Homo sapiens: one gene and its partners. The protein of the gene in region 6 interacts with the protein of the main gene of each other region in a biochemical or structural test. Each region holds a gene or a part of one and is shown on either strand. Other genes may lie near its edges. The genes, in order: LIMK2, LDB3, ARHGEF11, TJP3, SIPA1L2, VANGL1 and FRMPD3.

Region 1 (3,500 bases), on a different chromosome or scaffold from region 6:
GCCCTCTAGCCAGAGGGGACAAGTCAGCCTCCTTTGTGACAAGGAAGCCAGGAAGGATAGGACCCTGGAGGCCAGGCCCAGAGCAGTGGGACATACCAACTTGATGAGGCAGTTGTGCGAGTTCAGATCCCGGTGGATGATGCACATAGAGTGCAAATAGGCCTGGAACAGAAGCATGAGCTGAGGCTACAGGGCCAGCAAATCAACTAGACCCTGAATCTGGAATTGGGCGCCATAGATGCTCTCCTACCAGGCCATGCCCACCCAGCTTCAGAACCCAACCTGGACAACAGGGCCAGGGCCTCCTATGGCCTCTCCCTTGTCCCAATACCAACAGGAAGCCTGGACTTCCTCTGCTTCCCTGCTGCCATCTCCTGCCCATCCTTTGGTTCACCAATCACTAGCACAGTGGCTGGCCAAAGCCCTCACAGCTCTCTCCTAATGTCCCCAACTTCAGAAAACCCTGGCCGTTGCAGCACCCCCTCCACCTCTACCCATTTTACTTAGATCCAGGCTGCTCCCTCCTCCCCACTCTCCCAATCTCTGGCTTGAGCCACTTTGGATCCTTCCTGCCTGCAACAGAGAAGTGACTTCTTGCTCCAGCTAGCTCTGTCTTTCAGACATTCACCTCCTCTAAGACTCCACCTTCCCCACTGTCTAAACTTTAAGCTCTCCCCCTTCCTACCAAAATGTTTGTCAACAAATTTGTTTGTTATGTCTCCTCTCCAGGCCTCCACCACTGACTCTTACCACTCTCAGGAGCAACTTCCTTTCTCCTTCCCTTGCAAATGTAGAAGGAGCCACTCCTTGCTCTCCAGCCCCCTGCAATACTACTTTCATCCCTTAGGCTCCTGGAGCTGCTCACACACCCAGGGAGCTCTTCCTGAATCGCTATAGCTCATGACCTGCCTGCCTGCCTGCCTGAGGGAGTGCTCCTCAAAGACTGTCCACAACTTTCCTATGCTACCTGATCCTGAGACTCTTGTGTGTCTGTTTTTTTCTTCCAGCCTTTTCAGTGTCAGCCCTGCTCAAAGCCATCTCCTCTTCACAAGCTGAGACACCCCCACCAGCTACATGGATGCCTCTTCTGTCCCACAGCTCCAGCTGCCCCTTCTCTGCAGATTAGGTGACTAGCAGCCTCTCCCTAAGCCAGTCTCATGGAGCCAGTTTCCTGCCCAGAAGATGCTGATAGGTTCTGCTAGCACAGAACAGCAGGGATCAATGCTAGCTCTTCCCAAACCAGTTGCTCAACAATCATGGCTATCCCCCATCCCCCAAATGTCTGGTAAGTGACACCTCAAGCCACTCGTAACTCCTCCTCCTCCTCCTCCTGTTCCCTCATTGCCAACCAGTCTCTCCATTCTGACTCCACCCGGCCTCCCAGGCTCCTGTCCCCACAGCCACTACCTTAATTCAGAAATTTGAAATGTTTCATTAGCCCCCTATGCAGGGCTCCATTCCCTGGACCCTCCGCATTCCACCCCAATGTACTAACCATATCAGTCTCTCTTTTTTTTTTTTTTTGAGATGAAGTCTCACTCTGTCACCCAGGCTGGAATGCAGTGGTGTGATCTTGGCTCACTGCAACTTCTGCCTCCCAGGTTCAAGCTATTCTCCTGCCTCGGCCTCCTGAGTAGCTGGGACTACAGGCGTGCACCACCACGCCCAGCTAATTTTTGCATTTTTTTCTTTAGTAGAAACAGGGTTTCACCAGTTGGCCAGGCTGGTCTCAAACTCCTGACCTCAAGTGATCCACTCACCTCGGCCTCCCAAAAAAGTGCTGGGATTACAGGCATGAGCCACTGTGCCAGCCCAGACTCATTTTGGAAAAACCACAGCTCTTAAGCTTTCTTGCTTAAAAATCTTTTCCTGCCGGGCATGGTGGCTCACAACTGTAATCCCAACACTTTGGGAGGGCGAGGCAGGAGGAATGCTTGAGCCCAGGAGTTTGAGATCAGCCTGGGCAACAAAGTGAGAACCTGTCTCTACCAAAAAAAAAAAAAAAAAAAAAGAAAAAAAAATTCAAAAAATTAGGTGTGGTGGTACACACCTGTAGTCCAGCTACTTGGGAGGCTAAGGCAGGAGGATTGCTTGAGCCCAGGAGGTCGAAGCTGTAGTGAGCCATGATCGTGCCACTGCACTCCAGTCTGGGCAACAGAGCAATATCCTTTCTCAAAACAACAACAACAAAAAAACCTCCTTCCTGATTCAAGCCCCAGAAACAGGAAAAAAAAACAAAAAAACAAACAAACAAACAAACAAAAAAACCAAAAAGCCAGTCAACCAAAAAACTCTTTTACATTTGTCTCCTATAGTCCAGACTCCATAGCTTAAAACACAGCGACCTTGATGTACCCCCAAACTGTTCCAGACTACTACTATTTTCATGGACCCCCATGTGAAGGGCAGTGGCTAAAGTCTCAGGCTTGGCGACCAGACTGATTAGCCCAGGATCCCAGCTCTGTCCCTTTCCAGTCCAGCTTATCTGGAAACCAAGGTTGTCATGAGGAATAAACATGCACATGCATGTTAATCCCTCAGCCCAGTGCCTAGCATATAGAGGGCACTCAGTACTTGTCAGCTGTTATTATTTCTATGCTTGGAATCATTTGTTTCCAGGTGAAATAGATGATTTTCTCCTCTTTCCTCCCAGGTCTTTGCTCCTGTCACTTCAATCCTGGTGCCTCTCTGCCAATAAGAACTTTATCCAATTCTGATCCTTCAGGGCTCCGCTAGAACTCATTTCCCCTTCATTGATTTCCTAGGCAGTGAGGTGCTCTAGTTGGTCTAAGGGCCCTCAGCACCTGAATACCTGTGATGGCAAGCCCAGGCCATCTCAGGCTACAGTTTGCCTCTCCAGTTTGCCTTGTCCGTGCCCTGTTTGCCTTTAGAGATGTGTAATTCTTTGAAAACAGGGCTGTGAACTGAGAACAGTTGGCTGGGGTCAGTTTCAGTGACACAGACAAACTCAATGAATAGCTGCTGACCCAGCCCACACAAGTTGCATAGGAAGGGGTCTCTACCTTCCAGTGAAGCCCACAATTCTCACACCTCTCCCTACTCTCGCCCTGCTGGCAGGTTTGTTGGTGGGACTCACCATTCCGGAGGCGATTCCTTTGGCAAACCTGACCTTCTGCTGCCAGGGGAACGGATCCTGCAGAATGGGGAATGATTTTCAGAGGCTGTTGAGCCCTGTCCCACTCGTGGTCCAGGCCCCATGGGTCAATGTGGTCTCCCAGTGAAGCCTCCCTGTGTATGCTCAGTCCCACCCAGCATGGTCCTTTGGAGGCAAAGCAGGGCCCCTCTGCCCTTTAAGCTCCTAGGGTAGTGATAGCATAGGTGTCTGACAACCCACCAAGGCTCCTGGAGACTATGGGGTGGTGTGCTCACCATACTGCGCAGAAAGTCCTTCAGTGTGCCCCCCTCAATGTACTCTGTCAGGAGGTTCAGCTTCTTATCCTTGTACAGCACACCAATGAACTTGAGCACATTGGGGTGGT
Region 2 (3,500 bases), on a different chromosome or scaffold from region 6:
GAGCTGGGAAGGGCATTCACTAGTACAAGAACCCAAGACGTTTCTTTTCTTTCTTTCTTTTTTTTTTCAGATGGAGTCTTACTGTGTTGCCCAGGCTGGAGTGCAACGGCAGTATCTCAGCTCACTGCAACCTCTGCCTCCCGGGTTCAAGCGATTCTTCAACCTCAGCCTCCCGAGTAGCTGGGATTACAGACGCCCGCCATCATGCTCGGCTAATTTTCGTATTTTTGTAGAGATGGGGTTTCACCATTTTGGCCAGGCTGGTCTTGAACTCCTGACCTCAGGTGATTCGCCTGCCTTGGCCTCTCAAAGTGCTGGGATTACAGGCGTGAGCCACCGCGCCCAGCCAAAACGTTTATTTTCTAATTTACAGTCAGGGGAAAGAAGTTTTATTTTGTTTTGCTTTTTCCCTTGAGGAACTGAATGTTTTCTCCTTTCTGATTTTAAAGTAAACTAACTTACTGTGTTTCTCTTTTTGCCCTCAAATTTGCTACCCAGTTAGTCCCTGCAGCTCTGTTATTCTTCATAATCAGCATGCCTGCTTTTCCCGCCTCTGATTTTCTGGTTCTACTGTCTTAGCCTTCATGTCTGTGTTACCTTTTCTGGAACCTGCTTCAAATCCTTTCTGAAGGGGGAAGCCTCTGAATAAATGAGTGACTGACTTCCACCTATCTAATGAAGTGCTTTGTCTCTTGAATTTACAATAATTTACTTAGCATTTTAAGATAACATATAGCATTTTGGGGGTACAGAGAAACTCTGAATTCACTCCGTGAGATTACAGGAATCTGCAGGAACATCAAAGTCTGATAAATATCACAGGGGCAGAGGAAGGGGTCTCGCATATTTGATGCTCTACACGCCTTCTCTGGTTTAATCCTCACCACAGCTCTGTAAGGCAGGTGTTTACAGACGAGGAAAGTAAGGCTCAGAGAAGGTTAGTAACTTGCTCAGGTTTACAAAGCAGCCCAAAGTGGAACCAGGAATAGAATGAAGGACAAAGTCCACAGCCAAGGCCTTTTCAGACTAGACCTTGTGGTCTCCAAATCAAAATAACCTGAAAGGTTTCCCAGTGGTCATAAGATGCCAACTTGTGATCTACATTTTTTTTTTTTTTTGAGATACAGGATCTTACTCTGTTGCCTAGGCTGAATACAGTGGTGCTATCACAGGTTACTGCAGCCTCGAACTCCTGGACTCAAGCGACCCTCCCACTTCAGCCTCCTGCGTAGCTGAGACTACAGGCACGCGCCACCACACCTGGCTAATGTTTATATTTTTTGTAGAGACTGGGTCTTGCTATGTTGCTGGTGTCAAACTCCTGGGCTCAAGCAATTCTTCTGTCTCGGCCTCCCAAAGTGCTGGGATTAAGGTGTGAGCCACCTCACCTAACCAGATCCACATATTTGATGCATAAAATAAGCTATAGACTCTGCACCTCACTCTCCCCAAAGCTGCAACCATATGGGCAGGGGAGATAGTTAACTTCCTTTGTGTGATATTAGCATGATTCTGCCATTAAAAGCAAAAACAAAGGTTTCTTCCAGAAATAAAGGCCTCTGGGTGGTCGGATGTGAATGGATTAGGCAGGAGTTAGTTCCCTGTGCCTGCCCCTTTCTCCCAGGCTGTGGGGCCTCCCCACATGCCATCGAAGTGTTCCTACCTTTCTCGCAGTAGGGCTCCCCGTCTTCCATGTGGAAGAGGCTGTTCCCAAAAGGCTTCTTGCAGGCCGCACAGACGAAGCAGGTGGTGTGCCATGTCTGTCTCAAGGCATGCATTACTTCCTGGGGGAAAGAGCCTAAGCTCAGGACAGAAAGGAGAGAGGGAGCGGGCTTGACTACCCCACCAGGCTCCAGCCACTGCCCGAGCATCCTACCAGGGAACAGGGCAGGAGATCTCAGGATGCAGGCCTTGGTCACTCTGAAGAAAGACCCAGGGGTGTCAGAGAAGGGGTTGTCACTCTCCAGCTGGGTGCCAGGTTCTGTGCTTTCTTACATAAACTGTGAGGCTTAATCCTCCCATTAAACCTGGGAGGAGGTACTGCTTATTACTGTCATTTACCAAAGGGGCATTGAGGGTTAAGGCCACATTCTGGTGAGTGGTAAGGTCAGGCTGTGAAGCAACCACTTGCTTTGCAGAAGTTCCACCACCACTTCAAGCTGTGTGGAACAGGCACACAATCATCTCTTGCATCAAGTTCATTTATCCCCAAGTTTATTGGTGGCAAACCAATTCCCTTTTAGGATAAAAATGGAGTTGCTTTCTCTGTTACCAGCAACTTCTTGGCTTCCTAATGGGATCCCACGATCTTGGGGAAGGGCTGGGGAAGAGACATGGGTCAGAGGAAATGGAGGCCTCCCACTTACCCCCATAATTTTGGTGTTGCACTTGGCACACAGCGGGGCAAAGAATTGCTCATAACATCGCTCACAGTAAACGTTGTTCTGCTCTTCCACAAAGCACACATCTGCCAGGGAAGTCTTGCAGTAGGCACAGGTGAACTCTTCAGGGTGCCAAGAACGGCCCATGGCTACCAGAAATGGGCCCCTGGGGAAGCACAGAATGGCACCCAGTAAGGCAGCTCCCAGAACTTGGAATTAGATATTTGAAGAACCCCAACACTGTTTATACTTTTACCCAATAACTCTGACTTTTGTGACTGTTCTGATGAAGTAATGTGAAATTCAGAGAAAGCTCCATGCAGAAAGGTGTTCATTGTTGCATCACTTACAATAAAGAAAATCAGGAAGCAACTCAAACATCTACCAATAGGGGACTGGGTAAACATATTATAGAATTCAGTTGACCACTGATAATGATAGTAAGAAATGCAATAATGATGATGCTGATGGCTAACATTTATTAAGTGATTACTCTGTGTCAGGCTCTATTCAAGAAGACTTTTGCATTTATTAACTTGCTTAATTCTCACAACAATCCTACGCACTAGGTACTATTATAATACCCATTTTTAGATAGGGGAATTGAGGCACACAGAGTTTGAACAACTTGTTTAAGGCCATAGGGCTAGTAAGTGGTAGACCAGGATACAAACTTGTATTGTCTAGTTCCAGGTTAGCAGTCAGAACAGTGGGACTATGAAGACATTTTTTTATATTCTAATTTTTACTTTTCTGTGTTTTCCAATTCTTCACTAATGAGTATGTATTACTTTAGTTTTAAATAAAAGTGTATTTTTCACGTATATAAGCTCACACCACACATGCACACAAACATACTGTATTCAAACAACAGCACCCATGGTCCATGGCTTCTAAGTATGAAATCACTTGTTTTCATTTTAGTCTGGCAGATGCCCACCAACCCCCTGAGCAGCCCAGGCCTGTCTGTGGAAAGACCCAGAAACAACCCTAAAGGAAAACTGGGTCAAAACCAACACTGTCTAACAAAATGCCCTGTAAACCTACTGACAAGCCTGGTGATTCCCAGACCTCAACCTTAGCCCAAGGGGGAGTTCCTGGCACCAGGCATCCTGCTGG
Region 3 (3,403 bases), about 41 Mb from region 6:
TGGTTACAGTCTTGGTGATGTGGCTGCGTCTGTGGGAGGATGTGGATGGATGATGACAGTGATGAACTGGCCAGGCCTGAGGCAACCCTCCCACTTAGATTTGGCTTTTAAAGTCTTCAAGCTCATTGAGGGCAGCTCATGAGACCTCTTGACTCTGGGTCCACTGCTCCTTTATATACACATATATGTGTATATATATGTGTGTGTGTGTGTATATCTATATATGTGTGTATATATATGTATCTATATATATATCTGTGTGTGTGTAACTGAGTTCAGTGTCTTGTCATGTTTTCTCCATGGGGGTTGTACAACTTAAGTTTGCCCAGTCCCTAGTTCAGTGAGTGCACAGCTGAAGCTCTGGGAGGGAACAGGCAAGATCTGGGTCTGGGGGTGAGAGGGCTCCCTCTGGTTCCCACTATCCAATCCTAACCAGTCTTACAGGGAACAAACACCGTACCTTTTATCACAGCGATTCCAAGAAACACACACACCACCACTGAAGGATATTTAACTTTTCTTAAAAAAAAAATCTTAACCATGAAAGGAAGAAAATAAAAGAGTATACATTATCTTAACAGCAGAACAGTCATTTCCATATCTATATTTTATATATTATATATATATTTATATATATATATATGTATATATACACCTAGCACAGTGTGTATATTCTATTCATCAGGGAGAGTTGGGTGAGGACGTGGTGATGGGGCCAATGCTGCGGTGGCCCCTTGGATGGTCCTGGGTGAATTCAGGGACTCGGCATTCAGACCCCTGTCCCCACCTCCTGGGGCCCAGTCCTCAGCTCCGTACCTGCTTCACTGGTTTTCTACAGGGACAGGGTGGGGAAGAGGGGGACATAGGTGGGGTAAGAAACCCCCATGATCCCCATCTTGTGAAGATGAGAAGTCCAGGGAGGGAGGGAGTAGCTTGGCAGCAAGCTGTGGAGGGCAGGCTCTGGAGCCAGGTGGGATGGGGAGCCAGAAGACCTTCCCACTCACAGGGACAGGAACACTCAGGCCTGGCTCCCGCTTTAGGCTCGATCCTGGAACTGGGTTGTTAACTAAGGAGATACAAGTGAAACCCCTCTTCCCTAAGCAGCTCCTTCCATAACTGCCTCCAGCACTTCAGGAACAGGAACAAAAAAGGTCAAAGTTATTTACAATAGCAAAGATGCACATACGATACATACATATTTATAGGAAACCAAAGTGACAAAGAGGGGAGGGGAGGCACCCACCTCTGCCTGGGGTCTTATGGAGAAAGAGGGGAGGAAGAAAGTGCATTTACACAGAAGCCTCCTCCTTTCACTTGCATGTCTGAGGGCAGCGCACATACAGGCGTGCGCGTGTACACACATATGTGGGGTGAGGGCAGACCATGGTGAGTGGGGGCCTTTCGGATGCAGTCAGCATGCTTAGGAGACATGAGGCCTTGGAGGGTTGGGCTAAGGGAGGGAAAAGACACTGAAACCTGACTCCGACTTGAGCAGACCAAGCAACATGCGGGTCTCCCCCCGGGCCTTGGCTGGATCCTAGTTTCCCTAACTGCCTCCTCCACAGGGAGGAGTGTTGGGATCCCCCCTACCCTGTGCCCCGGTCTCAGGCCAGTCCCTGAAGGAGGAGTGGGGACGCAGAGGATTTGGTGGTTTGTACGGTTATGGTCCTGGTGACGCGGCTGCGTCTGCTGTGCTGTCTTCCAGGGGGGCGTCAGAGCCTGTGGGAGGAGGATGAAGGTGAGGAACTGGCCAGCCTGAGGTGACCGCTTCCACATGTTTTGTCTAGAAAGTTCAGGCTCACGAGAACAGATCCTTCATCACCTTCCTTCTCCTCCAGAAACCCCAGTTTCTCGTAGGGCTTGAAAAGGGCTGTCTACTGAACTCCACTTTCATCAGCGCCTAAAGCCCTTAGGTCAGGTAGGTATGTGCCTTGTCTTCCTGAGTTATGACATAGCTGTGTCCCTGGCCCACCCAGTGTGGTTCTGAATCATTTAATCAGCACGAGTCTTAGGCCGACACCATGGTGTGCACCTGCAATCCCAGCTGCTTTGGAGGCTGAGGTGGGTGGATCACTTCGGCCCAGGAGTTTGAGACCAGCCTGGGCAACATAGCCAGGCCAGCCCTTGTCTCAAATAAATAGAAAAAAAAAAAAAAAAAATATATATATATATATATATATATATATAAAATTAAAAAAAGAACAAGTCTTAGAGGTGAGAACAGGCTCCTCCTGGTTTGTTACCTCCATAGCACAAGGAAAAAGAGGGCTCAGTGCTAAGCTCCCCATTTTGCCAGGGAGCTTCTGTGGGACTTCCCTAAAAAGATCCCTCTCTGAAGCTGAGAGAATGAACTCGTTTCACTCAAGGGGAAACCACTCTCAGAACCACCATCTCTCACTGCTTAGTGATGTGTCCTCACGAGTTGGCAGACTTCTCCCCCAATGGTAGGAACCGAGAGGGACCTGGCTTCACTCACCATCCTCAGGGCAGGGCCCCAGTTCATGGCTGTTCCTGGAGTCAGAAGCTAGGGGCTCCTTAGCGGGAGGTGAGAGGGAGCCATCTGTCCATCTAGCTGCTTCTGTGTGGAAACTGCCCACAGGCGTGGTGCCACCAGATGACTCTCCCCCAAGGGACTTGAGCAGCTCTCTGTGGGCCAGCTCCATATCCTGGAAGAGTCGGCGGGGGAATGTCTGCTCGAGTCCTTCTATTCCTAAGGCCCCTGGGGAAGGGGTCTGTGCTGGGCCTTGGGGAGGAGGGTGTGATTTAAGGGTGGCTGGGCGGGCTGGGGGAAGATCCCTGGGCCAGGACAGGATCTAGGGCTCCCGCGAAGACACACATCTCACTCATGGGGAATGGTTTTGGGGTGATGGACTGAAGGCCTGCAGGGACCCAAGCCCTGCTTCCCTCACCTTGAGCCTGTTGAGCTTGAGAGTGAGCTGCTCAATGGTATGGAAGATCATGCCCACGTCCCTGAGGGCCAGGCTTGGAGGAGAGCGGCTGGGGCGTCTTGGATCATCGTTGCCTCCCTGCAGCTGAGGCTGAGGCTCTGTCTGCCCTGCAGGGAGGCTGTCAGGCTGAGGGGGGCTCATGGGTGCCTCTGAGTGGTCGGTGCTTGAGTCCGGGGGTCCTGATGGCATGCTGACATAAAAGCAGTTCCCTGTCCCCACAGTAAGAGAATGAGATCAGGAGGCAAACAGAGAAGTCGAAGCTATCCTCCCGTTCCTGTGGGATTCCCCAGCCACCTGACAGAGCAGGCCAGGCAGTCCTCTCCAGACAAACTCAGAGAACGTGGGCCTTGCTCACTGTCTGCCAGCCCCCTAAAAGCCCTGCTCCCGAGACCTTCTAGATGACACTTGCTCAGTCTGGCCCCAAGCTGGGGGAGATGCTGAGCGATGAACTCAAG
Region 4 (3,500 bases), on a different chromosome or scaffold from region 6:
TTTTAATCTCACCTCTAAAGTAGGAATAATAACTGTGCCACTTCCTAAGGTCACTCTGAGGATGAAATGAATGGGTCCACATCAAGCGCCTGCTTGCAGCCAGGTTCAAGACAGCCTGACCAACATGGTGAAACCCCGTCTCTACTAAAAATACAAAAAGTAGCTGGCTGTGGTTGTGGGTGCCTATAATCCCAGCTACTCGGGAGGCTGAGTCAGGAGAATAACTTGAACCCAGGAGGTGGAGGTTGCAGTGAGCCGAGACTACGCCATTGCACTCCAGCCTGGGCAACAAGAGCAAAAAACCCCATCTCAAAAAAAAAAAAAAAAACTACACAAGGAGAAAGTCATTATTTGGCCACCACCTCCCCAAGGCTCCTTCTGCTTTTTGCTTTTCAGGCATTGAATCTGTACCCTTTTCCCAAACCACATCCCTGCAAGACAGGGCAGCAGTGCCATTTCACAGATGGGGAGACTGAGGCTGGGAGAGGCCCCGCCATAGCTAGCACGGGTGGGCAGACTTGGGATTTGAGTCCAGTCCTGAGCGCTGCCCTGGCTCCTTCAGAACTGCAGAGCCCTGCCCTCTGCTCTGTTTCTCTCCCCTCCACCCGCCTTCCCACTCCTGGAGATCAGGAATGCTGGCCTCGCTAGAGACGCTGGAGCTTATAAGAAAAGGCACTGGAGCGCACCAATGGGGGGTGCCTGGGCAGAGGGAATCACACACCCGCTGTGCCAAGCCTAGAAAACCCGCCCCGGGGAGGAGGAGGAGTCACTTCTACAAACTCCCTCCCCACTCCCTCCACCTGTCCCCTGCCTGGGGAGCAGGGCATGGTGCGTGCTGGCAGGAGGGAAGGGAGGGTGGAGGCGTGGCCAGGTGACCTTGCACCTGAGTCTGGTGTTCTCATTCATGCCATGGACATGAAAATAACAGAATCTGCCTGGTGTGGAGGCTCACGCCTGTAATCCCAGCACTTTGGGAGGCCAAGGCGGGCGGATCACTTGAAGTCAGGAGTTCAAGATCAGCCTGGCCAACATGGTGAGACCCCCGTCTCTATTAAAAATACAAAAATTAGCTGGGCATGGTGGTAGACACCTGTGATCCCAGCTACTTGGGAGGCTGAGGCAGGAGAATCGCTTGAAACTAGGAGGCAGAGGTTGCAGTGAGCCAAGTTGGCACCATTGCACTCCAGCCTCAGCAACAGAGTTTTTTTTGTTTTTTTTTTTTCTAAGTGGGAAAGCCCAGGTGGGAGGATCATTTGAGCCCAGGAGTTCAAGAAGAGTCTGGGCAACACAGCAAGACCCTCCTGTCTCTATAAAAATAGAAGTTAAAAAATTAGCTGGGCATGATGGTATGCACCTATAGTCCCAGTTACTCAGGAGGCTGGGGCAGGAGGATTGCTTGAAGCCAGGAGTTCGAGGCTGCAGTGAGCCATAATGGCTCACACTTGTAATCCCAGCACTTTGGGAGGCCAAGGCTGGAGAATCACTTGAGCCTAGGAGTTTGAGACCAGCCTTGGCAACACAGAGAGACTCCATCTCTACAAACAATAAAAAAAATTAGCCGGGCATCGTGATGTGTGCCTGTGGTCCCAGTTACTTGGGAGGCAGAGGTGGGAGGATCACTTGAGCCTGGGAGTTCGAGGCTGCATTGAACCGTGATCACACCACTGCACTCCAGCCTGAGTGACAGAGACCCTGTCTAAAAAAAAAAAAGTGTGGGAGGGGGGACTTCATGGCTCTGTGCCTCAGTTTCCTCATCTGTAACATGGGGATAATTGAATGCACCTTTGATGAATGTATTAAATGAGATAGTACATGTAAGGCTGGGCGCGGTGGCTCATGCCTGTAATCCCAGCACTTTGGAAGGCCAAGGGGGTGGATCACAAGATCAGGAGTTCGAGACCAGCCTGGCCAACATAGTGAAACCCCGTCTCTACTAAAAATTCAAAAAAATTAGCTGGGCATGGTGGCACATGCCTGTAGTCCCAGATACTTGGGATGCTGAGGCAGGAGAATCACTTGAACCTGGAAGGCGGAGGTTGCAGTGAGCCAAGATCACGCCATTGCACTCCAGCCTGGGCAACAAGAGCGAAACTCTGTCTCAAAAAAAAAAAAAAAAAAAGAGATAGTACATGTAAAGCACCTGGCACAAAGGAAGTGTTTCATTCATTCACTCATTAATTCATTCAGCAAATCCTTCTTGAATCCCTGCTGCAACTCAGGCGCTGTTCTAGGCAGGGAACTGAGGGCTCAGTTTTGGACAAAGACAAAAATCTCTGCCCTCTGTGGGTGGATCAGTTGAGGTCAGGAGTTTGAGACCAGCCTGGCCAACATGGTGAAATCCCGTCTCTACTAAAAATAGAAAAATTAGCCTGGCGTGGTGGTGGGCACCTGTAGGTGCCCAGCTACTCAGGAGCCCAGCTACTCAGGAGGCCAGTAGGCAGCCAGCTACTCAGGAGGCTGAGGCAGGAGAATCACTTGAACTTGGGAGGCAGAGACTGCAGTGAGCAGAGATTGTGCCACTGCACTCCAGCCTGGGCAACAGAATGAGACTCCGCCTCAAAAAAAACAAAACAAGGCTGGGCACAGTGACTCACCCCTGTAATCCCAGCACTTTGGGAGGCCGAGGTGGGTGGATCACTTGAGGCCAGAAGTTAAAGGCCAGTCTGGCCAATGTGGTGAAACCCTATCTCTATTAAAAATATAAAGATTAGCCAGGTGTGGTGGTGCACCCCTGTAATCCCAGCTACCTGGGAGGCTGAGGCAGGAGAATCGCTTGAACCCGGGAGGTGGAGGTTGCAGTGAGCTGAGATCGTGCCACTGCACTCCAGCCTGGGCGACAGAGCCAGACTCTGTCTCAAAAAATGAAACAAAACAAAAAAACAAACAAAAAAACCTGAGGCCCTGAGAGAGGTAGTAACTTGTCACAGGCTCCAAACACAGGCCTGTCAGAGCTGGACTCCCCACCCTGAGCTGGGGACCCCCAAGTGCTCAGATGAACCTGTGTGGCCTCATGCCCATCTTCCCCGCTCCCCTCGACCAGGTGGCTGACATGGAGGAGCTGACCATCTGGGAACAGCACACGGCCACACTGTCCAAGGTGAGGCCTCCCTCTCCCTGTCTGGGTGCCAGAGAGTATGGCGGCTTAGGCCCAGCTCAATAGAGGGGAGACCCTTTACCCTGGGGGAAACAGCAGCTCTTCCTTCCCCTCATCCTCTCTCAGGACCCCCGCCGGGGCTTTGGCATTGCGATCTCTGGAGGCCGAGACCGGCCCGGTGGATCCATGGTTGTATCTGACGTGGTACCTGGAGGGCCGGCGGAGGGCAGGCTACAGTGAGTATCCAGGCAGCTGGGTTCTGGCGGGGGAGGGCACGTGGAGAGGAGAAACCAGGCCAGGCACAGTGACTCACACCCGTCATCCCAGCACTTTGCGAGGCTGAAGTGGGCGGATCACCTGAGTTCAGGAGTTTGAGACCAGCCTGGCCAACATGGTGAAACCCCGT
Region 5 (3,500 bases), about 120 Mb from region 6:
CCACTTCAGTCCCTTATAACGTTAAACCACTGTGAAGCCTGTTTATTACTTTTTCTCATGGAGTATAGACTTAAAAGAATTTGTCTGCCAGATAAATTGTGATTATTAATAATTCCCCCTCCTGTTTTTGCATCAATCCAGACTTAGCATGTCTTTTGTAATCACATTATGACAACATGAATCAGAGAAATGATCTGATGCAATAAAGCTAAATAAACAGATATTTACACTGCATCTGGTCACTTAGTGTGAATTGTCTCTCTGTCCTCATACTGATGACATAATAGGACTGAAATAGTTTTGTCAACAGATCTTGGTCCCCTGTTGTGTCTCCTTTCCTCTCCTCCACCCTGAATTTCGGTCTTGGCTTCAGGTGTGCCTCAGTGTTAACACCATAGTTACTTCCTTCCAGCCAGTGGAATCAAAGAATCCTGGACCTGCTTTTTTGTCTCTGCTGTGAAAATAACTCATAACCCTCATGCCCGTGTTCATGCAGAGGTATCACATTATATCACACTGCTCAAGGATGCTCTCTAGGTGGAAGTTAGTTATTTTTGGAAAGGGAGATGGAGAGATAGGCTTCCTAATTAAGGTTATTTTTATTGATGAAGCCATGGCTGCCAATTCTTAATAAAATAAAGTCTGTTGGATTTATTATGCCCTGAAATCCCCAGGTAATTAGTCATTCTGGCTAGCTGAGTTTTGTAAATAGTTTGTGATTCAGACTTTGAAATACTAGAACATAAAATTATATATATGTTCATATTTATGCCAAAACTTAGTGCCAGCGTCTCATTCATATGCTGTTGCACATGTCTGAGTGTAAGTGGAATGAAAAACTGTTGTTTTGTGCACCCCGGTCACCACCATTTGATTCATTAATGTCCCCAGGGTCTGTTCCCCGAGATGATTTTAGGTTGCTAGATTCTGTTAGTTTTCTTGACTGCTACTTGTAGTTTTTCTCTTGAATTCTCAACTGTCACTTCTTGGTAGTTTTAAAGACTCCTCTGCAAGTGATTTATTTCCTCCACCTTTTCTGATGAGCTACTTAGTTTTTCAAGAGCATTGCAAATGACATCATCAAACTGCTTAGGTTTGAATGTGAAATAAATAAGCTCCAAAGAAGAATCTGAGTGTAGACACCCTGTCAGTGAATTGTGGGTGGATGTACGCTTATCGTTTGGCATTTTGGTGCTGTTGGGCACACTCTCTGGTTCTGAGCTTTGCAGTGGATTTATAAACGAGTCAGAAAGCAGAATTCTAGACTATAGTCACGCATCAGTTAACAACAGGGATATGGTCTGAGAAATGTGTTATTAGGCAATTTCGTCATTGCGTGAACATCATAGAGTATACTTACACAATCCTAGATATATATCTTTATTCATATATATATATATATTTTCATATTGAAAACCAAATGTCCCAGCACCATTACTGAATATCAGACATTTCCCCTTATTCATCTGCACTGCCAATATCAAGTGCCATGCATCAGATTTCTGTATATGCTCCATCATGATTTTATGGGACCACCGTCATGTATGTGGTCCATTGTTGACCGAAATATCCCTATGCGGTACATGACTGTGCTTTGCAAAGCCCACAAAATGAGGGAGTGGGGAGGCAATCCGTGAGGTCACTTTGTCTTCAGTGTTCTGTGATTCTGTGCTGTGGAAGGTGCTGTTGTGCCTGCAGATGGGCTCGGGCTGGGGAAGGAGCGGCCACCAGGAGCGAGAAGAAGGCCGAGCCCCGGCTGCTCTGTTCTCTCTCCAGCGCAGCTGTGAACTGTGTCCTGCCTCCTCCTATATTTAGCTCTTCCCCTGTGGTCCAGTGTGACTTCAAAGTGAAATTGGTTACAATGGCATCTGCTCCTGCTCTTGCTGGTCTCTTGTTGAGCCATTAAGGACTCCAGGCAGAGGCAGCAGCCCAGATTCTTAAGTGAAAAGTACAGTGAGGTGGAGGCCTCCTATGGTGTGGGAGTAGATTCCCATTCCCGCTTCAGCCACTGGACACAGTTGTGCAAGACCCTTCTGTCTGCAAACATCATGAGTTGGGTGAGCTTCATTGTATTTAAAAACAGAGGGCCTGGGCAGACTGGCACAGATAACGATGTTTTTGAGATAGCTTTTTTCTTTCCCTTTTTTGCTTTTCCCTTCTCTCAAGGATTTTCTCTTTGGAAACTGACTTTCAGGGATCTATCTTTCAATACTTTCCAGAGTGCTTTTATTTTGTTCTGTGCTTCAGGGTTCTGTGTAAAACTTCATTTTCAAGAGAATTAACTGGCTCCCAATCATGGCAAATGTTTAAAGTGCGATACTTTAATAATGTGATTTCTTCTTTATTGGGTAGTTAATGTGAAATGTCTGCTTTTGATGCTGAGGTGTATTTCTGTGACACATCATCACTGAAAGGCTGTTGAATAACTTTGTGAAAGGATTTCTGCAGGGGAGTGGCAGGACACAGGAAACTGTGTGACAACATCGCTTGCCCAGGCAAATCCATCTGTAGCTTTCAGTGAAATAGCTTTTCTTTTTTCTTGAAGACAGAGTCTCGCTCTGTTGCCCAGGCTGGCGTGCAGTGGCGCAATCTTGGCTCACTGCAACCTCTGCCTCCCGGGTTCAAGCAATTCTCCTGCCTCAGCCTCCCAAGTAGCTGGGATTACAGACATGTGCCACCACGCCCGGCTAATTTTTGTATTTTTAGTAGAGATGGGGTTTCGCCGTGTTGGCCAGGCTGGTCTCGAACGCCTGTCTTCAGGTGATCCACCCACCTCAGCCTCCCAGAGTGCTGGGATTACAGGCGTGAGCCACCGCACCCAGCCAAAACAGCTTTTTTAAAAGCAGTGAGGATAGTAGCAAGTAGAGTGAATGCCCAATAAGTCCCTTCCTTTCACGGGCGATAACCATGAAGACACATTGGTGCCGTTTGTCACATTACTGTTTCTCTGATGGGACTCATTGTGAATGTGCCATTTGCTGCTGCTTTGAGCTTTGCATTTGTGAAACAGGCTGTGACAAAGGGTCCCTTAGATAGGGATTCTAGTTGTGCTTGACCACGGTCAGTCATGTGAGCATCAGTGAGTCTGGTTTCCATTGTAGCAGAGCAGCAGGCTTTGCCTCCTTCTGGACCTGCTTGGCACTGCACACTGCCACCAACAGTGGGGCCAGTGCTGGAACTGTGTGGCAGAGCCCAGACACTGTGTGTTGACACGTGAGGTCTCCCCCGCTTGGTGACGAAATCCTTAACTTGTTAAGAAGTTGTGCACCTAGTGGGTTACTCAGGAGTTCTAAAACGGTTCTGTGCCCTACTTTATGCCACCCAGACCAGAATAGTTCTAGGAGGCAAAGTGAGTAATATTTGGGTAAAGAGAGGTTAAAACCAGATGGGAGGATGAAGCTGGGCCTCCGTGGTGACTCAGGAGTGAAGTGAAAAGTGGCTAAATCATTGTCTGAGCCTTCGGGAACGTTGTTTTGCTAGAGCCATTCTGCTGGCACAGG
Region 6 (3,500 bases):
CCTGTTTCTGCACCTGTCCACCAGACAGCGGTGCACTGGTCTCTTTCCAAGTGACTGTGAGTGCCACAGGTGCTGAGATAGAGCTCTGAAGGCAGCCAGCCTGGTGTGTCCAGGGCTCTGCACACAGCAGATGTTTAACACAAAACTGCTGGTCATTCCCTGATGCAAAACATGGGAAAAGAAAGCCTTCTGAGATGAATATGCAGCAAAGCGGTGACCTACTTGTCTTCAGAGCCCTACAGGCATCTGTGAAGGACTCTAAACCCCAGATTTTTGGTGCACAGACATGTGACTTGGACACCAGTTTCCACCAAGGATCAGTTAGGGTGGCAGCAACCTTGAACGCTAGATCATCCCGTTCTCGTAGCACAAGCCAAGCCAGAGGAATGGAGGAGGGTACACACCAACATGAAGATGGTTTGGCAGCATGGCCTGACTCCAAATACAGGCTGAGCCACCTTCCTGGAGCCCAGCCAAATCTATGACAAAGCCGATTGTTCTGATACCCACTAAGGTGTGCCCTTGCTGATTCTGGCTGCTCTGCCAGCTACATGATCACAGCAGTAATAGCTGCAATGAACTAAGTGCCTACCCTGCCCCAAGCAGGCTACACACATCAGCATATACTGCCTAAGGAGGCAGAGAGCCTGGGAGAGGGTAAAGGCTTTGAAGTCAAATGTCCCAGGCTCTGCATTCACCCAGAGAACATCTCAGTGCAAGCCATGCTCCATGCCAGGCACTGAGGATGTAATGAGGTATAAGGGTGGCCCCTGGCCTCAGGGAGTTCATAGTCTGTGGAAGAAAACAGATGGAAAAATAGGCCACTAACCACAAAGTGAGAGATGCCATTATGGGGGCATTCACTCAGCCCTGGCCTCATGACATCTGAGTGAATCCTAAATGAGGCTAGCCATATGTTTTTGTGCAAATTACTTAAATCCCCTAAGCCCTAGTTTCTTCATCTGTGACACAGGGATTAATAATACCTAGGTCACGGGGTTCTATGAAGACTAAATACACAATCTATATATAAAGTGCTTACCTTGAAGCAAATAAAATGATGGTAATCACTCTTATTTAACCACAAAATAATGAGATTTTATGCAGAGATGTAAGTATGACAACCCAACTGACTTCTAACTTTTTCTCACGCATACATTTTCACAACACTCAAGGATTACACATTTGGAGTCTCTAACCTGCACTTGATTCTTTATTGGAGGGTCCCTCGGATGACCATATAATTTACTGCCCAAACCAGGCCTCTGAGAGTGGGAAAAAAGGAACAATTCATTATTCCACTGGGACAACATGGTAAACCAGATGTCACATTTGGGACAAAATGGAGCTGCTGGTCACTTTATCTGTTGTCCATTGGCCAATTTCAGAGTCAAAGAAGGCAGCCATCACTATGCATCTCCTTTCTCCATCATTTTTGGGAGCTGCCAATAACTTTGAGAACAAGCCCAGCAAAATCTCAACCTGGGTGAGAGCCAGCAACTGCCCCGCACCATCTAGAAGTCCAGAAACTCAATGAACATGGACACCCTCCCCACCCTCGCATCTCCTCCCCAAACCAGAAAAGAGTCAGACTCTGGTCCTAGCTCTTGGCATCTGTCACCACCCCTCACGTGCTACAGAGCAGCTGTCTCCCAGCAAGACATCAGCCATCCTTTCTGCCTCCTGGATGTTGCCTCTTACCTCAGGTGTCCCAGGCTGTAGAAGCGGGACTCGCCATCGGTGGAGCGGACCACCTGCAGCGTGAACATGGGCTGCAGCTGCCTGAGCTCCAGCAGGACGATGGCCAGGTAATGGATGAAGAGGAGGGCATCCACAAGGGAGACTGCATATTGCACAATGCCCTGGTAATTCCGGTCCCGAGAGTCCAAAATGCGGACCCCGTAAAAAAGCCAATAGGAAACCACAAAGAGAAAGATGAGGACCAACAAAAGGGCACGAAACACAAACACCCGTGGCATGTCAGCTCTCCGCTTGCGGAAAAAAAGTGCCCAGGTCCCTATGAGCAGAATGAGGAGTTTGAATGCCATGGAGATAAAGAGCCCCTCACAAATTGTGCCACAAGGCTCCAGCTCATCCCTCCACAGGATCGGAGGTAAAAGGATGAAGGCAATAGGGGTGAGGAAAACTAGAAGTCCAAGAAAAGAGGCGACGGTGAGGCCCAGGTAGCGTTTGCAATCCAGCCCCACGCTGTCCTCCATGTCCTTGCTGATCCTGGCAATGTCCTCTTGGGATATGCTGTGCTCCGAGGTGCCTGTGATGGCCGTGGTGGTCTCTCCCCAGTTGTCATCCTGGTGGGGAGAAGACAGTGAGGATGACATGACACAGGTCATTTGTAAAAGCTACAAAGGGCAGTGAACATGCAGGGCCCGCTGCATCTACCCAGCCCTATTCACAAAGGCTTCCAGAAAATGAAAGCTTAACTCTTTAAATATTAGAACTTCTTAACTCAAACGATTTTCATTGAAATTTTCAAAATGTATGAGGTATTTACCTTTTCAAACAGAGAAAACATAATGTGATCTTTCTGTCTGTTTGGCTGATTCATTGACATAACATTGATTATCATCCCCTGGGTTGAAAAGCCTTGAGCAGCTCTGAGGGCCTGGAGCTGTTTGCCCTGCAATGCGCAACCCAGGTATTAGACTAATCTTGTGAGAGCTCATCTATAGAGATAAACCTCCTGCATCTTCTTTCCAATTCACGCTGGGTTATAAAGGCTTACGAAGTCCAACTTTTGGAGGTGGGAGTATTACTACACCCTCTAGCAGCCCAGAAGAGCAAAGGGCGTAGCAAGGGAACTTACACCACTACACAAACCCAAGCTTACCTGTAGCTAGGACCCACATTTTAAAATCTCTTTATGGACTGGGGCGCGGTGGCTCACACCTGTAATCCCCGTACTTTGGAAGGCCGAGGCGGACGGATCAGGAGGTCAGGAGATCAAGAACATCCTGGCCAACATGGTGAAACCCCGTCTCTACTAAAAATACAAAAATTAGCAAGGCGTGGTGGCACATGCCTGTAATCCCAGCTACTCAGGAGGCTGAGGCAGGAGAATCGCTTGAACCCGGGAGTCGGAGGTTGCAGTGAGCTGAGATCGTGCCACTGTACTCCAGCCTGGGCTACAGAGTGAGACTCCGTCTCAAAAAAAAAAAAAAAAAATCTCCTTATGATGTTCACAAGATCCACTTAACAAGCATCAGTGTCAAGCACTCTTTAACAATATTTCTCATGGACCAAGCTAAGCAAATCCAGGAATCCGTGTATGGCCAGATTGGCTTAAAAATTCTTTCTAAAACATGTTTTCACGAGGAACTAAACATCAAGGGCATAGAAACAACCAGGATTATTAAAATGTTATCTTTTACTTTCTAGCTTCCTCTCTTTTTAAACTTCTAGGCCGTTGCTAGTTAAAGCAATTAGTCTATTCACTTAGCAAAACCCAGTTGATAGAATTTTAAAGGATTTTGTTGTTTAAA
Region 7 (3,500 bases), on a different chromosome or scaffold from region 6:
CCAGTTTGACAGAGTCAATATGCCAGTGTTGCCTTTCACTAGAGATTACATCTATGACAAAAGTACAGCACTGGCACCTAACAACAAAACTCCCAAATACAGGAAGAAAAAACTGACAGAATTGAAGGGAAAAATACACAATTCAACAACAGTAGTAGGAGACTTCAATACTCTACTTTCTTTCTTTTCTTTTCTTTTCTTTTTTTTTTTTTTTGAGACGGAGTCTCACTCCGTTGCCTGGGCTAGAGTCCAGTGGTGCGACCTCGGCTCACTGCAGCCTCTGCCTCCTGGGTTCAAGTGATTCTCCTGCCTCAGCCTCCCGAGTAGCCAGGATTACAGGCGCCTGCCACCACGCCCGACTAATTTTTTGTGTTTTTGGTAGAGGCGGGGTTTCACCATGTTGGCCAGGCTGGTCTCAAACTCCTGACCTCAAGTGATCCACCTGCCCTGGCCTCCCAAATGCAGGGATTACAGGCGTGACCCACCGCACCCGGCCAATACTCCACTTTCAATAATGGATAAAACAACTAAGCAGAATATCAACAAGGAAACAGAGGACCTGAACAATACTATAAATCAAACTAGACCTAACCGAAATCTATAGAACCATCTACTTAACAGCAGCAGAATATACATTATTCTTAAGTGCATATGGAACACTGTTGTGAATAAACCGTATGTTAGGATATAAAATAAGCCTTACTAGATTTAAAAGGAATAAAATCATACAAAATATATTTTCTGAGCACAACATAATTAAATTAGAAATCAGTAACAGAAGGGAGTCTGGGAAATTCACAAGTAGAAATCAAACAAAACACTTTTTTTTTTTTTTGATACAGGGTCTTGCTCTGTCACCTAGGTTGGAGTGTAGTGGTGCAATCTTGGCTCACTGCAACCTTCACCTCCTGGGCTGAAGTGATCCTCCCGCCTCAGCCTCCCAAGTAGCTGGGATTACAGACACCTGCCACCACGCCCAGCTAATTTTTGTATTTTTGGTAGACATGAGGTTTCACCATGTTGGCCAGGCTGGTCTCAAAATCCTGGCCTCAAGTGATCTGCCTGCCTCAGCCTCCCAAAATGCTGGGATTACAGGCATGAGCAACCGTGCCCAGCCAAAACACTCTTAAATAACCAGGCTGTCAAGGAAAAAAATCACAAGAGAAATTAGAAAATACTTTGAGATGAATAAAAATGAAAATACCACATACCAAAATTTATGGGATCTAGCTAAAGTCGTTTTTTTAAATTTTTTATTAATTTATTTTTTGAGATGGAGTTTTGCTCTTATTGCCCAGGGTGGAGTGCAATGGCACGAACTCAGCTCACTGCAACCTCCACCTCCCGGGTTCAAGCGATTCTCCTGCCTCAGCCTCCCAAGTAGCTGGGATTATAAGCATGTGCCACCATGTCTGGTTAATTTTGTATGTTTAGTAGAGATGGGGTTTCACCATGTTGGTCAGGCTGGTCTCGAACTCCTGACCTCAAGTAATCTGCCTACCTCAGCCTCCCAGAGTGCTGGGATTATAGGCGTGAGCCACCGCGCCCGGCCTAAAATAGTTCTTAAAGGGGAAATCTGTAGCTGAAAGTGCCTACGTTAAAAAAGAGGAAAGATTTCATATGAATTACCATAAACTTCCACTTCTACCTTAAGAAACCAGAAAAACAAGAGCAAACTAAGTAGAAAGAATGAATAAGACCTACTATTTGATAACGCAATAGGGTGACTACCGTCAATAATAACTTAATTGTACTTTTAAAAATAACTAAAAGAGCCAGAGTAATCAGACAAGAGAAATAAATAAAGGGCATCCAAACTGGTAAAGAGGAAGTCGAATTGTCACTGTTCACAGATGATATGATCATATACTTAGAAAATGCTGAAGACTCATCCAAAAAGCTCCTAGATCTGATAGATGAATTCATTAAAGTTTCAGGATACAAAATCAATGTACACAAATCAGTAGCACTGCTATACACCAACAGTGACCATGCTGAGAATCAAATCAAGAACTTCACCCTTCTTACAATAGCTGCAAAAAAAATAAAACACCAAGGAGGTGAAAGACCTCTACAAGGAAAACTACAAAACACTGCTGAAAGAAATCACAGATGACACAAACAAATGAAAACACAGCCTATGCTCATGGGTGTGTGCAATCAATATTGTGAAAATGACCATACTGCTAAAAGCGATCTGCAAATTCAACGCTATTCCCATCAAAATGCCATCATCATTTTTCACAGAACTAGAAAAAAAAATCCTAAAATTTATATGGAACCAAAAAAGAGCCCGCATAGCAAAAGCAATCCTAAGCAAAAGAACAAATCTGGAGGCATCACATTATCAGATTTCAAACTATACTACGAGGCATGGTACTGGTATAAAAATAGGTACATAGGCCAATGGAACAGAATAGAGAACCCAAAAATAAACCCAAATACTTACAACCAACTGATCTTCGACAGAGCAAACAAAAACATAAAGTGGGGAAAGGACACCCTTTTCAACAAATGGTGTTGGGACAACTGGCTAGCCCCATGTAGGAGAATGAAACTGGATCCTCATCTCTCACATTGCACAAAAATTAACTCAAGAGGGATTAAGGACTTAAATCTAAGACCTGAAACCATAAAAGTTCTAAAAGATAACATTGGAAAACCCCTACTAGACATTGGCTTACACAAGGATTTCATGACCAGGAACCCAAAAGCAAAAGCAATAAAAATAAAGATAAATAGTTGGGACTTAATTAAACTAAAGAGCTTTTGCACAGCAAAAGGTACAGTCAACAGAGTAAACAGACAACCCACAGAGTGGGAGAAAATCTTTGCAAACTATGCATCCAACAAAGGACTAATATCCAGAATCTACAAGGAGCTCAAACAAATCAGCAAGAAAAAAACAAACAATCCCACCAAGAAGTTGGCTAAGGACATGAATAGACAATTCTCAAAAGAAGGTATACAAATGGCCGAGCATAGGGAAAAATGTGCAACATCACTAATTATCAGGGAAATGCAAATCAAAATTACAATGCAATATCACCTTACTCCTACAAGAATTCACCATAATGGCTGGGCGCGATAGCACATGCCTGTAATCCCAGCACTTTGGGAAGCTGAGGTGGGCAGATCACAAGGTCAGGAGTTCGAGACCAGCCTGACCAACATGGTGAAACTCCGTCTCTACTAAAATACAAAAATTAGCCAGGCATGGTGGTGCATGCCCGTAATCCCAGCTACTCAAGAGGCTGAGCCAGGAGAATGGCTTGAACACGGAAGGTGGAGGTTGTGCCACTGCACTCCATCCTGGGTGACAGAACAAGACTCTGTCAAAAAAAAAAAAAAAAAAAAAGAATGGTCATAATTTAAAAATAAAAAAAAAATATGTGTTGGTGTGGATATGGTGAAAAGGAACACTTTTACACTGCTGGTGGGAATGTAAACTAGTACAACCACTATGGAAAACAGTATGGAGATTCCTTAAAAAACTAAAA

Evidence for each region.
Region 1: the proteins of VANGL1 (region 6) and LIMK2 interact in a test that uses a peptide from one of them, tested with the Homo sapiens proteins (one large-scale study listed by IntAct).
Region 2: the proteins of VANGL1 (region 6) and LDB3 interact in a test that uses a peptide from one of them, tested with the Homo sapiens proteins (one large-scale study listed by IntAct).
Region 3: the proteins of VANGL1 (region 6) and ARHGEF11 interact in a test that uses a peptide from one of them, tested with the Homo sapiens proteins (one large-scale study listed by IntAct).
Region 4: the proteins of VANGL1 (region 6) and TJP3 interact in a test that uses a peptide from one of them, tested with the Homo sapiens proteins (one large-scale study listed by IntAct).
Region 5: the proteins of VANGL1 (region 6) and SIPA1L2 interact in a test that uses a peptide from one of them, tested with the Homo sapiens proteins (one large-scale study listed by IntAct).
Region 7: the proteins of VANGL1 (region 6) and FRMPD3 interact in a test that uses a peptide from one of them, tested with the Homo sapiens proteins (one large-scale study listed by IntAct).

Annotation. Positions count from the first base shown.
Region 1 is NC_000022.11:31,267,798-31,271,297, reverse strand, and holds part of LIMK2 (LIM domain kinase 2), read right to left. Parts: coding exon 3,391-3,500; intron 3,155-3,390; coding exon 3,098-3,154; intron 163-3,097; coding exon 97-162; intron 1-96. UniProt on the Homo sapiens protein: Serine/threonine-protein kinase that plays an essential role in the regulation of actin filament dynamics. Acts downstream of several Rho family GTPase signal transduction pathways.
Region 2 is NC_000010.11:86,717,011-86,720,510, reverse strand, and holds part of LDB3 (LIM domain-binding protein 3), read right to left. Parts: intron 2,548-3,500; coding exon 2,367-2,547; intron 1,785-2,366; coding exon 1,664-1,784; intron 1-1,663. UniProt on the Homo sapiens protein: May function as an adapter in striated muscle to couple protein kinase C-mediated signaling via its LIM domains to the cytoskeleton.
Region 3 is NC_000001.11:156,934,340-156,937,742, forward strand, and holds the end of ARHGEF11 (rho guanine nucleotide exchange factor 11), read right to left. Parts: intron 3,158-3,403; coding exon 2,910-3,157; intron 2,667-2,909; coding exon 2,477-2,666; intron 1,906-2,476; exon of another isoform or gene 1,792-1,905; intron 1,720-1,791; coding exon 1,661-1,719; 3' UTR 501-1,660; downstream 1-500. UniProt on the Homo sapiens protein: May play a role in the regulation of RhoA GTPase by guanine nucleotide-binding alpha-12 (GNA12) and alpha-13 (GNA13). Acts as guanine nucleotide exchange factor (GEF) for RhoA GTPase and may act as GTPase-activating protein (GAP) for GNA12 and GNA13.
Region 4 is NC_000019.10:3,725,384-3,728,883, forward strand, and holds part of TJP3 (tight junction protein ZO-3), read left to right. Parts: intron 1-3,040; coding exon of another isoform or gene 3,041-3,049; coding exon 3,050-3,097; intron 3,098-3,220; coding exon 3,221-3,330; intron 3,331-3,500. UniProt on the Homo sapiens protein: TJP1, TJP2, and TJP3 are closely related scaffolding proteins that link tight junction (TJ) transmembrane proteins such as claudins, junctional adhesion molecules, and occludin to the actin cytoskeleton.
Region 5 is NC_000001.11:232,508,134-232,511,633, reverse strand, and holds part of SIPA1L2 (signal-induced proliferation-associated 1-like protein 2), read left to right. Parts: intron 1-3,500.
Region 6 is NC_000001.11:115,662,470-115,665,969, reverse strand, and holds part of VANGL1 (vang-like protein 1), read right to left. Parts: intron 2,310-3,500; coding exon 1,702-2,309; intron 1-1,701.
Region 7 is NC_000023.11:107,592,652-107,596,151, reverse strand, and holds part of FRMPD3 (FERM and PDZ domain-containing protein 3), read right to left. Parts: intron 1-3,500.